Linked DNA regions of Homo sapiens. The protein of the gene in region 3 purifies or fractionates together with the protein of the main gene of each other region. This does not show direct contact. Each region holds a gene or a part of one and is shown on either strand. Other genes may lie near its edges.

Evidence for each region.
Region 1: the proteins of SUSD4 (region 3) and FRAS1 purify together in Homo sapiens (affinity purification with mass spectrometry; 3 studies listed by BioGRID and IntAct, with this or other methods). This does not show direct contact.
Region 2: the proteins of SUSD4 (region 3) and ARSB purify together in Homo sapiens (affinity purification with mass spectrometry; 3 studies listed by BioGRID and IntAct, with this or other methods). This does not show direct contact.
Region 4: the proteins of SUSD4 (region 3) and CNTNAP3 purify together in Homo sapiens (affinity purification with mass spectrometry; 3 studies listed by BioGRID and IntAct, with this or other methods). This does not show direct contact.

Annotation. Positions count from the first base shown.
Region 1 is NC_000004.12:78,473,323-78,476,822, forward strand, and holds part of FRAS1 (extracellular matrix organizing protein FRAS1 isoform 1 precursor), read left to right. Parts: intron 1-115; coding exon 116-275; intron 276-2,115; coding exon 2,116-2,284; intron 2,285-3,500. UniProt on the Homo sapiens protein: Involved in extracellular matrix organization. Required for the regulation of epidermal-basement membrane adhesion responsible for proper organogenesis during embryonic development. Involved in brain organization and function.
Region 2 is NC_000005.10:78,782,811-78,786,310, forward strand, and holds part of ARSB (arylsulfatase B isoform 1 precursor), read right to left. Parts: intron 688-3,500; exon of another isoform or gene 507-687; intron 1-506. UniProt on the Homo sapiens protein: Removes sulfate groups from chondroitin-4-sulfate (C4S) and regulates its degradation. Involved in the regulation of cell adhesion, cell migration and invasion in colonic epithelium.
Region 3 is NC_000001.11:223,221,177-223,224,676, forward strand, and holds part of SUSD4 (sushi domain-containing protein 4 isoform a precursor), read right to left. Parts: intron 2,456-3,500; coding exon 2,073-2,455; intron 1,045-2,072; coding exon 1,016-1,044; 3' UTR 1-1,015. UniProt on the Homo sapiens protein: Acts as a complement inhibitor by disrupting the formation of the classical C3 convertase.
Region 4 is NC_000009.12:39,096,168-39,099,667, forward strand, and holds part of CNTNAP3 (contactin-associated protein-like 3 isoform 1 precursor), read right to left. Parts: intron 1-3,500.

The sequences.
Region 1 (3,500 bases), on a different chromosome or scaffold from region 3:
AAATAAGTTTTGTCTGTAATACATTAGAAGAATAAACTAGGTTTGTTGGTGTGGTAATCTATGAAGCTGTCGTTACATCCCTGGGTTAATTCACAGTGAGTCTTTTTTCTCACAGAGGATGTGAACTTGGGGTTGATTCGTTATGTGTTGCACAAGGAGAAGATCCGTGAGATGATGGATAGTTTTCAGTTTCTGGTGAAAGACAGTAAACCCAATGTGGTCAGCGACAATGTCTTCCATATCCAGTGGTCACTCATCAGCTTTAAATATACCAGGTACAAGTTTTACTGTGCTTTCCTTCTTGAGAAATCAATCAGGCAAGCAGAGGGAGTCAGGATGAAGGATGCTGGGGGGCAGCTCTAGTCACCTCTTGATGGCGGTGATGGTGATGATGGCAGTGATAAAAGTAATAATTTCACCAAATATTTATTGAGTACTGTATGTATTAGGTGCTGCACTAGGACTCGACATGCATCATCTTATATAATACTTGGAATTCTGAGATGAATTCCATTCCTGTCTCCACAGTGGCAAAGTAATAGAGACAGAAACTTGTTTATGTAACTTGTCCACAGTCACATAGCTAATAAGAAGTAAGACCAGGATGTAAGCCCAGTGATCTTAACGATGTGCTCTACTGCTGCTCAGACAAATGTTTTTGCTTCTGTCTCTTCAAGTTTTAGAAGAGAGTCTAGTAGAACTGATAGGAAAAATAAAAATAGGCATTCAAGTTTGGAAAATAATCACTGGCCCACACTATCAATATCTTCACCTTCCATCTGTATTCTCCTTGTTCCCAACCCTGTTTTCTCCCCTGGCTTCTTTGGGTTTGGTAGGAATGTATATCTGTAGGGCTAAATGCATGGCTTAATGTGGACAGCCCTTTAAGATGCTTTTCTAATCTGTTGGAGAGTTAGAAAGGCAAACAGAGAGATACTGATTGTTAAAGGTAGTGTGCAAGCATGGTGCTGATTTTATAGGTTAGATTATAACTAGGATTATAATTTATGTGGGGGAAATATTCTTTAAGTCTACATTTCAGAGACTCACTATCCAAGAAATCAACTTCATGAAAATTCAGATAAAAATTGGAACTTGGGGGAAAAAAGGAAGACTTAAAACCTTGATTTCATGTGCCCCAAATTCAGGCTATTCTACTCTTACACACATTTGGAGAATTAGAGGAAAATTAGAATCAACTTTTACATATGTAATGTTTTGCTGTTATTTACCTCTCAATTGTATCACCTTCAAAATTCAATAAATTCAATAAAATTCATCCCTTTTTCTGGACAACCCTCTAACATTTAATGGACTAAGTGGTATAGACGGTCCCAAAGCTGGCAATGAGGACTGAGCTCTCAGAGTCACTTTCCCTGCTGTCCTCACAGCAACAAGACATGCACCCAGGTCTAGGGGCCATCCTCAGTGGTGAAAAACAAAGCCCAGCTCATGCCCTACTTTCTGTGGCCTTTCCAAACCTAGATACTTATTATGAATCAATAGCATATGAATAGTTGGCCTTCTACTTTACAAATGCAATAGAGATTCTGAGCAGCAAGCTAAATTAATCATGTCCTTCCCCCATTGTCATAAAGTTCTATTTGTCTAAACATCTCTGTTATGTAGGCTTACCTCACATTTTCTTACCTCTGCTTCTGCTCTGACTCCATCACACAGTTCCTGGAGATCTGGTCCAGTCAGTTCCCACCTAAGTCATTGATTGCCTTCAGAGCAGCTTTCTTCCCTAAGAACCCACTGACCTATTGTGATTACTCAACCCCAGGAGGGAGAGATTGTTTTTCCTTTCTCTGTGCCCTGAAATCTGAAGTTCATTGCTCCTATGTGCTGTCCATCTCCCAAAATGACTCTTAGCTTGCTTGCAAAGCAGGGAAGACGACATTCTGCATCCACAGCTTCCCTGTTTGTTTCGTGCTCTGATTGTTCAGGTGAACTCATTCCCTCAATTTACAGCCTGGATTCTTAGAGGAACCAAACTTCCTCTTCTCTGACTACCTAATGCCAAGAACCAAATGGAAGAGACAGGCATTAAACAAGTTGTTTTTTCATAACCATGGGGCATAGTTTAAGAGATGCCTTTTTGTGTGCTTCCAGCTACAATGTCAGTGAGAAGGCAGGGTCTGTCAGTGTCACGGTGCAGAGGACTGGGAACCTGAACCAATATGCCATCGTCCTGTGTCGCACCGAGCAAGGCACCGCCAGCTCCAGCTCCAGGGTCAGCTCCCAACCTGGGCAACAGGACTATGTAGAGTATGCTGGCCAGGTAGGTGGGGTAGTGGGGTTGGGGGAGGCTCCAGCAAGGGCTGTGACATGGCTGCAAGCAATTGTGGCACTTTCCTACTTCTTCCCAACTTTGCTTTTCACTGGTGTCCTTCTTCAAGTATTAAATAGTTTTCCTATGTTCCCCTCCCATAGTACTTTGTTCTTCACAGTCTCTCTAACCTCCATTGAAGTTTTAACTGCCAAAGGGGAAGTTGTTGTCTAGCTTCTCAGTCTTTACATTTTGCTTCATGACAAAAAGAAGTCTCCAAGCATCATGTTCTATATTCAGCTTTGGTATCCCAACCGTTCTTCTCCTCTCACCTTCTTTACCTAAAGGGAGAGAAGAGAGTGTGTAAGGAGACTGGTTGGGAATCCCTTGGGGTAGGCTGGCTGAGATGATGGGAGCTTGGGCTTCGATTATGAAGTGAAGTTTGAGAGAAGCGGATGGATTTGACAGATGAGTGAGAATTGATAGGATTTGGCAGTGGATTGATTAGACAGTGGGGCCATTTGAAAGATGGATGATGATGCCTCTTGCTAGGAAGGGACATATAAGAGGAGCCGGTTGGGCAAGGTTTGGTGCTCGTGACTTTGCTTTGGCTATGTTAGGTATAAATTGTCTTAGAAAGAGCAGGTTGACCACTGTATAGATGGGCAGGCAGTGCAGAGAGGAGTCTGGTGTCCAGAGAGAAATTTGCAAGTCATCTACATACCAGTGGTAATTAAAGGTGGCAATGAGAAAGAAAAAGGAGAGAGTGAAAGTGGAAGAGAAAGGAGGACTTAAATAGTCAACTTAAATAGTCAACAAATACAGGGCCCCATGTATTTGTCATCTTTTATGGAGGGCACAATGTCTGACACTTAATTTTTTTTTCAAAGCAACTTTATTGTTATTATGGCAACACAGATCTCTGTAAAGAGAAGTGGGCTCTGTTCTTTAATTGAGGCATTTCAGCTGGACTAAGCTAATGTCTCTAATGTCAAATGTAAGTGAGGAATTAGGAAAGAACAGATAAGCTAATGTCTTTCAGCTAAATGATAAGACGGAGGATATTCTTGTGTTTTTCAGGGAAAGACAGAAGACTGTCAGTGTATTCTAGATCTTACATAAAGATCTGTTGAGTGTTTCATTTCACTGGGAGTGTTTTAAAATATGAAGCTTAATAAAAGTGTTATTAGTTGATTAGATATATACTAATAATTTTCTGTTTGAGTAA
Region 2 (3,500 bases), on a different chromosome or scaffold from region 3:
CTCACCATTGATCTTGCTGAACACCCAGTGGGCTCCCTTAGAGCACACAGCCAAGAGCAGACCAGAGTGCTTACATATATCCAGGTGACAGGCTGGCTGGAAATTGGACAGCAAAAAGGGTCTCGGTTGAACATGCTCAGTTCCTCCTTTTGAATAACTCCTTCCTTTGCCTGATTATGAAAGGAGTGAACAAGGCAAGAGTTCTACTCTTGTGGAAGACCCTGGTGGGTCCACAAGGGCCCTCACCTCACTCCTACTTATGCCTATGGTTGAGGCCTAGCTGAATAACATATAGTCTGTTTTAAGCCCACATTTATCTGTTAGCTTTTCAAATATGGTCACAGCAATCATCTTGGGATCACTTCGAAAGGTTGCTGAACCACCAGCCTAATAATTAATTGTCATAATATGTGATATGTCTGTAAAAGTATAGACTCCATTGGAGTGGTTAACCCATCTGTCTGCCTTCCTTCGATAATAGACTTTGAGAGAGCCCTTATCCTCACCCAAGCAGGACTTCTGTGCTCCTGGGGTTTTCATGCAGGGTGTGTCGGTGGTGGAAAAGGCGGGACATGCCATTCTTTTGACAGTCTTTTGGAAATGACCTTGTAGAGACAAGCTGGAGACAGATCCGGCAAACACTGGTGCTTTCAGAACTTCAGTCTCAACAATCACACAGCAGCAAATCTTTAGCACCAAAGAGGAAAATATTTTTGACTTCTTGTTTCTCTGCTTGCGGATATTTTGGCTCCAATACAAATGGATACTTCTAGTACTTGAGGTGCATGAGCATGTCTATCACAGGAAATGGTTGCTAACATACAGACTGTGGTAAAACTGTGAACCCTCATGGTTTACTCCTCACAAGTTTGTATGAAGGCCACATTTTGATACCAAAGAATGTTAAATAAAACAAGCATGTTTTGTGAACACAAACAAAAAAAGGAAATTTAACTATCTCATCTATACTTATATTTATACACATTTTTTTCTTAAGACAAACAGGAACATAAAATACCTAAACAATAAATAAGCCTAAGACTAAACTATGAAAGATACTATTATCTTGACTTTATTGTTTTCATTTTGAGAAATTAAACAAAGGGAAAATTACAAAGAATAATATGACTAACACCCTATGAGCCATCACCCAAAATGAACAGATGTTAACATTTTACCATGTTTGCCTTTTTTTAAAAAAAATAAAAGAAACTGGACAATAAAAATGAAGTTGAAGTCTCCTTTGTTCTTATCCTCAAACCCTGTCCTTTCATTTACTCCTCTAGAGGCTGCTGCTATTGTGACTTCAGTGCATCCTTCAGCCATTTTAAAATGCAGAATACATATGTGCCAAGGGATAATATATAGCACTGTTTTATGCTTTAAAAATGTATGTGTGTACTGTTGGTGGGAGTGTAAATTAGTAAAGGTATTATGGAAGACAGTATGGAGGTTCCTCAAAAAATTAAAAATAGAACTACCATACAGTGCAGTAATCCCACCACTAGGTATTTATCCAAACGAAAGGAAATCGGTATACTAAAGGGTTACCTGCACCTCCATGTTTATTGCAACACTATTTATAATAGTCAAGATATGGAATCAACCTAAGTGTCCATCAATAGATGAATGGATAAAGAAAATGTGATATATAGACACAATGGAATACTATTCATCCACAAAAAAGAGTTTGTTGGTAAAGCCATCTAGGCCTAGAGTTTTCTTTGTGGGAAGGTTTGAAATTATTGATTTAATTTCCTGAGCAGGTATAGGACCATTTAGATCTTCTATTTCTCCCTTTGTCAGTTTTGATAACTTGTATTTTATTAGGAATTTGTGTAGTACATGTGAACTTTTGTTTTGTATTATCTTTTAAATGTTTGTAGCATCTGTAGTAATATTGCCTGTTTATTCCTGATATTGGCAATTCATGCTTTTCATTTTTTCCCAAGATACGTTTTGCTAGTGTTTAATTGATTTTATTAGTCTTTTTTTTTTTTTTTTTTTAGATGGAGTCTTGCTCTGTCACCCAGGCTGGAGTGCAGTGGTGCGATCTTGGCTCACTGCAACCTCTGCCTCTGGAGTTCAAGCAATTCTCCTGCCTCAGCCTCCTGAGTAGCTGGGATTACAGGTGCATGCCACCATGCCCAGCTAATTTTTTGTATTTTTAGTAGAGACAGAGTTTCACCATGTTGGCCAGGCTGGTCTGGAACTCCTGACCTCATGATCCGCCCGCCTTGGCCTCCCAAAGTGCTGGGATTACAGGCGTGAGTCACCGCACCTGGCCTGATTTTATTGGTCTTTTCAAACAACAAACTTTTGGCCTTGTAGATCCTATCTGTAGTATGTTTGTTTTCTATTTCATTAACTTCTTTTATCTTTATTATTTCCCTCCTTTTATTTTCTTTGGGCTTAATTTGTTATTTTTTTTATAACCTTTTGAATAACAGATATTCAACATTTTCATTTCTAATACGGACTATGAATTATCCAAGCACCAATGTAAAAAACATGTAGTCTGAAGTTGTTGGGCTCAATGCTCTGTATATCATTTAGGTCAAGTTTGTTAACTATGGTGTTCAAATCTTTTATATCTTTATGGACATTTTTGTTTGTTTGCTTGTTCTATCAGTTACTGAGAGAGGTATGTTAAAAATCTCTTCTATGACTGGATAATTATTTTGAAAACTCCCTCTTTAATTCTAATAGTGCTTTCCTCCTTTAAATCTACTTTATCTGATGTATAGATAGCTCAGTTTTTAGCTGTCATTGTTGCTGCTGTTAGTACCTGCATAATATATTTTTTCCATCCATCTGTCAACATGTGTGAGACTCTTATGCAATAGAAAGAAGTATAAAACAGGGTATGATAGGCAGGATAATGGTTCCTCAAAATGTCAACATCCTAATCTCCCAGAACCTATGAATACATCACCTTCCATGCCATAAGGGACTCTGCAGGTATGATTATAGGTAAGACCTGTAAGATGTGAGGATTATCTCAGATTTATCTGGATGGGCCCGATCTAATGACATGAGTTCATAAATGCAAGGAGTACTTCTTGATTATGGTCAGAGGGAGATGTGGCTGCAGAAGAAGGGTCAGAGAGGTGGCAACTTTTCCTTCTAATCAATAGGGAGACATAAGAGGAATTTAAATATATTTTTTAAAGAGTATATCATATAGTTCACATATGATCAAATTCACCCATTTTTAGTGTAAAATTCTATGGTTTTTAGTATGATATATTCACAAAGTTGTATAACCATCACTGTAACATATTTTAGAACATTTTTATCACCCCAGAAAGAAACCCTGCACCATTGGCAGTTAATCCCCATTTACTCCCACACCCTCCAGCCCTAGGCAACCCTTAACCCACTTTGTGCTCTGGATTTACCTATTCTGGACATTTTATATAAATAGGATCAGACAATATGTGGCCTTTCGTGTCTGGCTTCTTTCACTTGGCATAATGTTCTCAAGGTTCATTCATTTT
Region 3 (3,500 bases):
GGAAAAATCCAACCTCACACTTCTTTTGAAGGTCGGATATGTTTACAGAAACAATTTCTGTTTTGGAAAATAAATGTATGGTTCAATTTGGGGCTGGGGGAACAATGACAATTGTCAACTAGAGAGAGGCTCATGATTCTGAGATAAATGTTAAGTGGAGTCTTTTTAAAATGCTGAAACAAAACATTACCTTGGTTACTGTCTCCATCATGAGATGTATTTGAACACATTCTGACCATGTGTAAAAACCACCAGATTTACCCAATGCCATGGATCCATGTGCCACACCATGAATACAAACACTGATGATATGTTACCAGAAGACAGCACAGAGTTCATGAGCTCTACTTTGTGAAGAAATTTCCAGAAAGCAGAGTCTGCCCATCTTTCCTTTCCTTTCTCACTGCAACTGCCACATCCTGCTTTCGTCTTGCTTCGAGTAGAGTTGTCTGGATGAAGGAAGATTCTCCAAATGTCACACAAGGACCTTTCCTTTGGGAGCTGGTCCCTTGCTGAGGGTGCAGGAGGCTCTGCTGTTCTTCCAGCATCTCAACACAAACTTTCTGCAGAGGCTGACCCATCCAAATTTGGAGTCCAGAGACAGTTTGAAGCAGATGTTAGAAGCAAATTTACATGATGTGACATGCTTTCAGAGGGGGCGGGGAGTACTTGCCAGTCAATGGGATGCGTGATGATTCGGTGGGATGTGCGTGGAATTGTCCCATGTTCCACAGCACGATACACATTTAACACCCCTCATCCAAGACCACGCGAGGGCTTCCCTGCTGCCCCGGTTCCCCATGGGTCTTGGTGAATCCTCAAATCTCATTTAAAAGCACTGCCATTGCAGTTTGTCAGCCTCACTGTGGAGCCTGAGATGCATAATGTGAACTGTGGTCCCCATGTAGACAAGTTAGACATTTTGCCCCCAGGCTCTATCCTTCTGTGACCTCACTCCAAGATACAAGGTCCTTTCCCCGAAGGAGCAGGAGAGTCATCTGGATCTTGACCCATATTAGGGATCTTCTTCCATTAGAGGAATCTCTGTAAAAGAAGAGACGGTTATTAGCTTAACATAACCAGAAAACACCATGACGATCTGGAATTATATGCCTCATTAAAATATCTACAGTTTCTCAAATCAGTGAGGAGAAGAAAATGTTAAGTTCCACATACCAGTTAATAACCAAATAAATCAACCTCCTATACAACATCTTTCTGTAACAATTGTTCTTTGCCAGGAAACAATTATGATCTTATTTCCAGTTCATAAAAAATAAAATGTTACATTTTAACCATAGGCCTTAATGGTCACACAAGCCAGAAAGTTGCAAATTCAAGTACAGAAAGGCAGCGTGGTTTGCAGAAAAGGAACACTGTGGTGGCCCAGGAGACCTCTGTTTCCACGTCATTACTGCCATTTACTCTCAATATAAGCCAAATTAGTGCTCTCATTTGCAAAGTGGCACTGGGGCTCCCCTTCTGTAGGAAACAGAGACCTAATCAATCTGACACATTTTCCTTATTTTACCATGAATCTACCCTTCCTTGTGACAGGTACACATGCATCTTTTACTTCACATCTGGTAAAAATAACTTCTATGTACACAGAACTCTGGGGCTAGAACACACTGCTGGGCCCTAGTGCGTGCCTCTGGATCCTTCTTCCTGGCATGTATGTGCCATCCTGTCCCTAAGCCCCACTTCCAGGAGTCCTATCTAATTAAGGAATAAAGAAGAAATACATTCCAGATCATACAGACACCACAAAAATGAAGCACCGGCCACTGCTGCCTTTCTACTCTGGATGGCTCGATGCCTTTTGGTGCCTCTTGAAATTTCCATTAATGGGCTCATTACTTGCAAGATGATGATCATTCCCTACAATAATTGGCCTTGCCCAAGGCCTCTACATGGAGAGAGAGCATGAAGCAATTTAAGCTGAGTGAGAGGTAAACAGATTGATTCGACTCTGTGCTGGGGGGTGGAGCGTGCGTAGCAAGGAGCTGGCTTGAAGATGCTGGTGCGGAGGTGTTTGCAGGTGTGGCTTGGGCCCTGGGGCAAGCACTTACCATCTGCAATGTCGATGCCTGGGCTGGTGGATGCCACCTCCTCTGCCGTGCTGGCAATTATGTCAGGGTTGTCCGAAGCAGGGTGGGTGCTCTCTTGGCACCTGGGAGGTGAATACAGACTTTGGAGCAGCTCAGAAGAGCCTGAGACGCTGTCACAGGTTTCTGACTCCCCTGGGCCTGTGTCCGTGTCCCCTGAGCCGGGGTATGCTGGGGGGCTCTGGTCGTCCACGGGTAAGGGGCAGCCCTGGCCCACAGAGGCCATGTACCCGGGGCCTAAGGCACTCAAGCCGCCACTCACAGCTTCGTCATAGGACGGGAGCATGACGGGCACGCCGTCTACCACCACAAAGTCAGGGTCACTGCTGGAACTCCGGGGAGGCCCCCTGTGTAAAGGAAAGAAGTGCCAACATGTGAGAGCCATGCCACTCTGGGGATGAGGCCACCCATACTCCCTCCTGCACTCGGGGTCCTCAGGACCCACGATGGGCAGCAGAGTCCCGTATGGAGGATAATATGGAAGAACCAGCCTCCTTTCAGGGACTCCTCTGGAAGATGATGCTGCCATCCCGGCTGCCCATGCTCCGGAGAGAGGAGGTTTTCTTTTTGTCACTCTCTCGTGTCCTCCTGCCTCTGGGCCTTACTATCTCCTCATGCTTTTTCCCTTGCTCCTTTGACCTGTGGGCTTTGGCCTTCTGGCCATAAGCTCATGGAGCAAGGGACAACATAACCCTTTCTAACAGAGCAGCCCAGTGCACCTCTGAAGTGTCCTGTAGGATGGGATTGAAAGTGGGATAGCACTGTTAAAAGTACAGAAAATAGGTCAGGTGTGGTGGCTCACACCTGCAATCCCAGCACTTTGGGAGGTTTTGCTTGAGCCCAGGAGTTTGAGACCAGCCTGGGCAACATAGTGAAACCCTGCCTATACAAAAAATAAAAATGTTAGCCACATGTGGTGGCACGTGCCTGTAGCCCTAGCTATTCAAGAGGCTGAGGCAGGAGGATCCCTGGAGCCCAGGAGTTTGAGGCTGCAGTGAGCCATGATCGCACCACTGCACTCCAGCCTGGGTAACAGAGCGAGATGTTGTCTCATAAACAAACAAACAAACAAACAAAAAACAGTAACTGTGGACCCTCAGTGCCCAGAGGGACTAGCTGGCCCTATGCTCATCATGTTTCTTTGTTGTTTTCTGCATTCAGTATAAAAATCATTACATTTTAGTCTAGATTTAAAAAAAGAAAAAGAAAAAGGAAAGAAGGAAAAAAAAGGAAAGCTGTGAGCACTATGTCACTACCCCGTTCAAGCTACGCAGGCTCACCGCCACCTCCTGACCCCCCGCCACTCTTCTAAGCAAGGCCCGGGTTGCTGGTGTGAGGGCTCCAGGAGCGGCGGCAAAGTGAGTCTGCATGTCTGCAGGGCTCCCTCACGTG
Region 4 (3,500 bases), on a different chromosome or scaffold from region 3:
TGCTTTTTAAAATAGTTAAGCACTGAAAAGGGTAAGAAATATGACATTATACTTTCTTTTATAATTACCTGCACACTTACCTTTATTAGTGCTATTTGTTTTTTGTGTGTAGATTCAGATTATTGTCTGGGTTATATCCCTTCAACCTGAAGGAACGTTCTTTGTTATTTCCTCTAATGCAGGCTAATAGCAGTGAATTCTCTGTTTTTTGTAAGTAGGGATATATTTACTATCTTTTTTAATTTTTAGTTTTTATGAATACCTAATAGTTGTACGTTATTTATGGGGTAGAGGTAATATTTTGATACAACCAAACAATGTGTAATGATCAAATCAGGGTAACTGAGATATCCATCACCTTAAACATTTATCATTTCTTTTTGTTAGGAACATTCCAGTTCCACTCTTCTAGTTATTTTGAAATATACAATAAATTATTGTTAACTATAGTCATCCTGTGCTACTGAACATGAAAGACGGTTTTGCTGGGTGTAAGTTTCTTCATGACAATAGTTTTCTTTCATCTCTTTGAATATGTTATCTCACTGTCCTGTGGCCTCCATTCTTTCAGATTAGAAGGTAGCTGTTGATCCTGGCGTTTCCTTGTATATATGATTTTTCTCTTACTGCTTTTAAAATTTCCTTCTTGACTTTGGCTTTCAAAGTTTTTAATAAGATGTGTCTGGATATAAACTTCTTTGTGTCATCTGTATTTCACTGAGTTTCTGTATCTTAGATTAATGATTTTTATTAATTTGGGGGTGTTTTCAACCATTATTTTTCAAATATTTTTTTCTGATCCTTTCTCTCTCTCCTGGTATTTTCAATTACGTATATATTGGTGTGCTTAGTTATGTCTGATATTTCTCTGATGATCTATTTTTTTCATTATTATTTCTCTGTATTCTTCAGGATACATAATCTCTATTGATCTTGCTTCAAGTTTGCTGACTCTTTTTTCTTTTCTCTGTTAAACTTCCCTGGCTTAACTCATTACTCTCTTGGAGTTATCAAAATTCTCTTAATTGCTTACTGCCAATATCTTCATACCACTATGCTTAAACTTATCCATCCTCTGTTCCAAATAGAAATCAGTTCACTTGGGGAGGGCTACCAAGCTGTGTATTTTCATGGCCTCCCTCTACCTCTTGGTTGAATGTGCCTCACTGCTCTGAAGCTGTGGGGAGTGAGAGTGGCCTGCTCCTTTGTAGTAAAACCTCTGCTTACAAGTAGGGCACAGGGTGGGAAAGGTAACTTCTTGCCTTGCCTCTCCTGGTGGAGAAACTGTTCCTTACAAGTAAGCTGGAGTGAGGGCAATTGGGACACAGGATTTTCCAGCTGCCACACCTGAAGACCTTATGTCCTGGAATGAGGAGTTGGTGTAGGAAGGAAACCCCAGACTTCTCAGCTGTTTCTGCGTGGACAGAGCTTCTGTCCTACAAAACTGGGGATGACAAGAAATGCTGGCACCCAATCTTGGGGTAATGCAGTATCTCTGGAGTAGGACCTGGGTAGAGAGGAAACCTCTGGCTTCTTGGCTATATCCATATAGAGTGGAGCTTCCGTCATACTGAGCTAGGGATGGGGAGGTGCTGGGAGAGGGTCTTGGCTTAAATGCCTCAAACTCTCACTATTATTACTGATTAATAAATGTTTCTTCATTTGATGTATTTCCTTAGGACATCTTCTAAAGACTTTCAATAGTTGTTTTTTAAAATAATAATTTTTACTAGTTATGCTTGTTTCGTATGAGAGAGGGTTTACAGAGCTCCTTATGTGGCCAGCCTGGAAATGCCAGAGTACCAGGTTTTTTATTTGAATGTTACCTCCTCTTTAAAAATCGATTTGCTTTGTAGGAAGCATGAAACAGAGCTCCTGAAGTAACTAGAGAAAAGGTGATTTGAAGACCAACCCTCCTTCAAGGTCAGAATTTAGAAATGTTCTTTTATGCCAAAGATGTTTCTCAAATTTACTGTCTGGATAGAAAGGCTAATCCAAAGTGGTATCTACAGTATTCTGAGAGAGAAAAGTTGAAGGGCTTTCAGATTCTCTTAAAACACTTTATGAAAGGTTGATATTTTAATTTTATATCAAGTTAATTCCAAAAATGTGTTTAGTACACACATACACATACACACACCCCCCAAATATATCTGTAAATAAAAAGACAATGTTGGGTGATGATCATTGTCTTGGAATACTACTCCACTCTTTCCATTTCCATAAAATATAAAGAATTTACTGAAAATCCAGATCATTCTTATTAGATTAGGTAATCTAACTATAACATATGCCCCAGCCACTGGAGGACCATTTTCCATTTACTTACTATATAATGTCTATCCTTAAGAAAATTTTGGGTTATAAAATAACATTCAAATTGCACTTAGCAAATGTGGATTGGGAATGATTTAGAAATCAGCACTTGTGCTCATGAAGGAGTGGTTACTCCTGATGTTGGCTTGAGATATAAAAAGGGCTCTGTATTTGCACCAGAGCTATGAGATTTGTTAGCACAGAGATCTTCAGGAATGATAAAAGACACATGCAAGACCTTTTGAAAATTTAAATGACTTCTAGATAATGAATCCTCAAAATTTTTTTGAAAGTCACACAATTTTATAGTGATTAAAGCCTGTTTTGCTGCTAAAAATAGTAAGTGTAACAGCCCAGAGACACTTAAAAACACAACTACATTTTAGCTCTGATGATTCAATATTGTAAGAGGTTTCATAAAAGTATTATAAATATATTAAATAAGTCAGTACAGAGTACTTAATACTAAAATCAGTCCCTTTTTCCTTTTCTTTTTTTTTTTTTTCCCCAAGACGGAGTCTCACTCTGCCGCCCAGGAGTGAGTGCAGTGGTGCGATCTCTACTCACTGCAACCTCTGCCTCCCGGGTTCAAGCAATTCTCCTGCCTCAGCCTCCCGAGTAGCTGGGATGCCCGGCTAATTTTTGTATTTTTAGTAAAGATGAGGTTTCACCATGTTGGCCAGGCTGGTCTTGAATTCCTGACCTCGTGATCCGCCTGCCTTGGCCTCCCAAAGTGCTGGGATTACAGGCATGAGCCACCACGCCCAGCCCTTTTCTTTTGAAAACATGATTGTACCTGAGCAGAAGCTGTGTGATACCCCACTGCACTCCTCTAAGAAGAGTCAAACATCATAGAGCACAGTGTTTGAGTGATCCTGTTAATGACTGTCAATATTTAAATATTATTTTCCCCTTCTAGTTAGTATGCTTGTTTTATAAGAAAAGACATTTCTATAAAGGCCTTTTGAATCACTTCAAGTCATTGTCACAAGGGACAATGGGTAAGACGATTGCTCAAGCCTAGGAGTTCAAGTCCAGCCTGGGCAACAGAGAGGCTTGAATAGCAATACGTTGTCTCTAAAAATTAAAAACAAAAATAACAATGATGGTTTACTGATGTTAAAATTAGAACAGTACAAGGACAGAGTTTTGAAAACCAAATTATTTCAAGAGGATTAGCATTG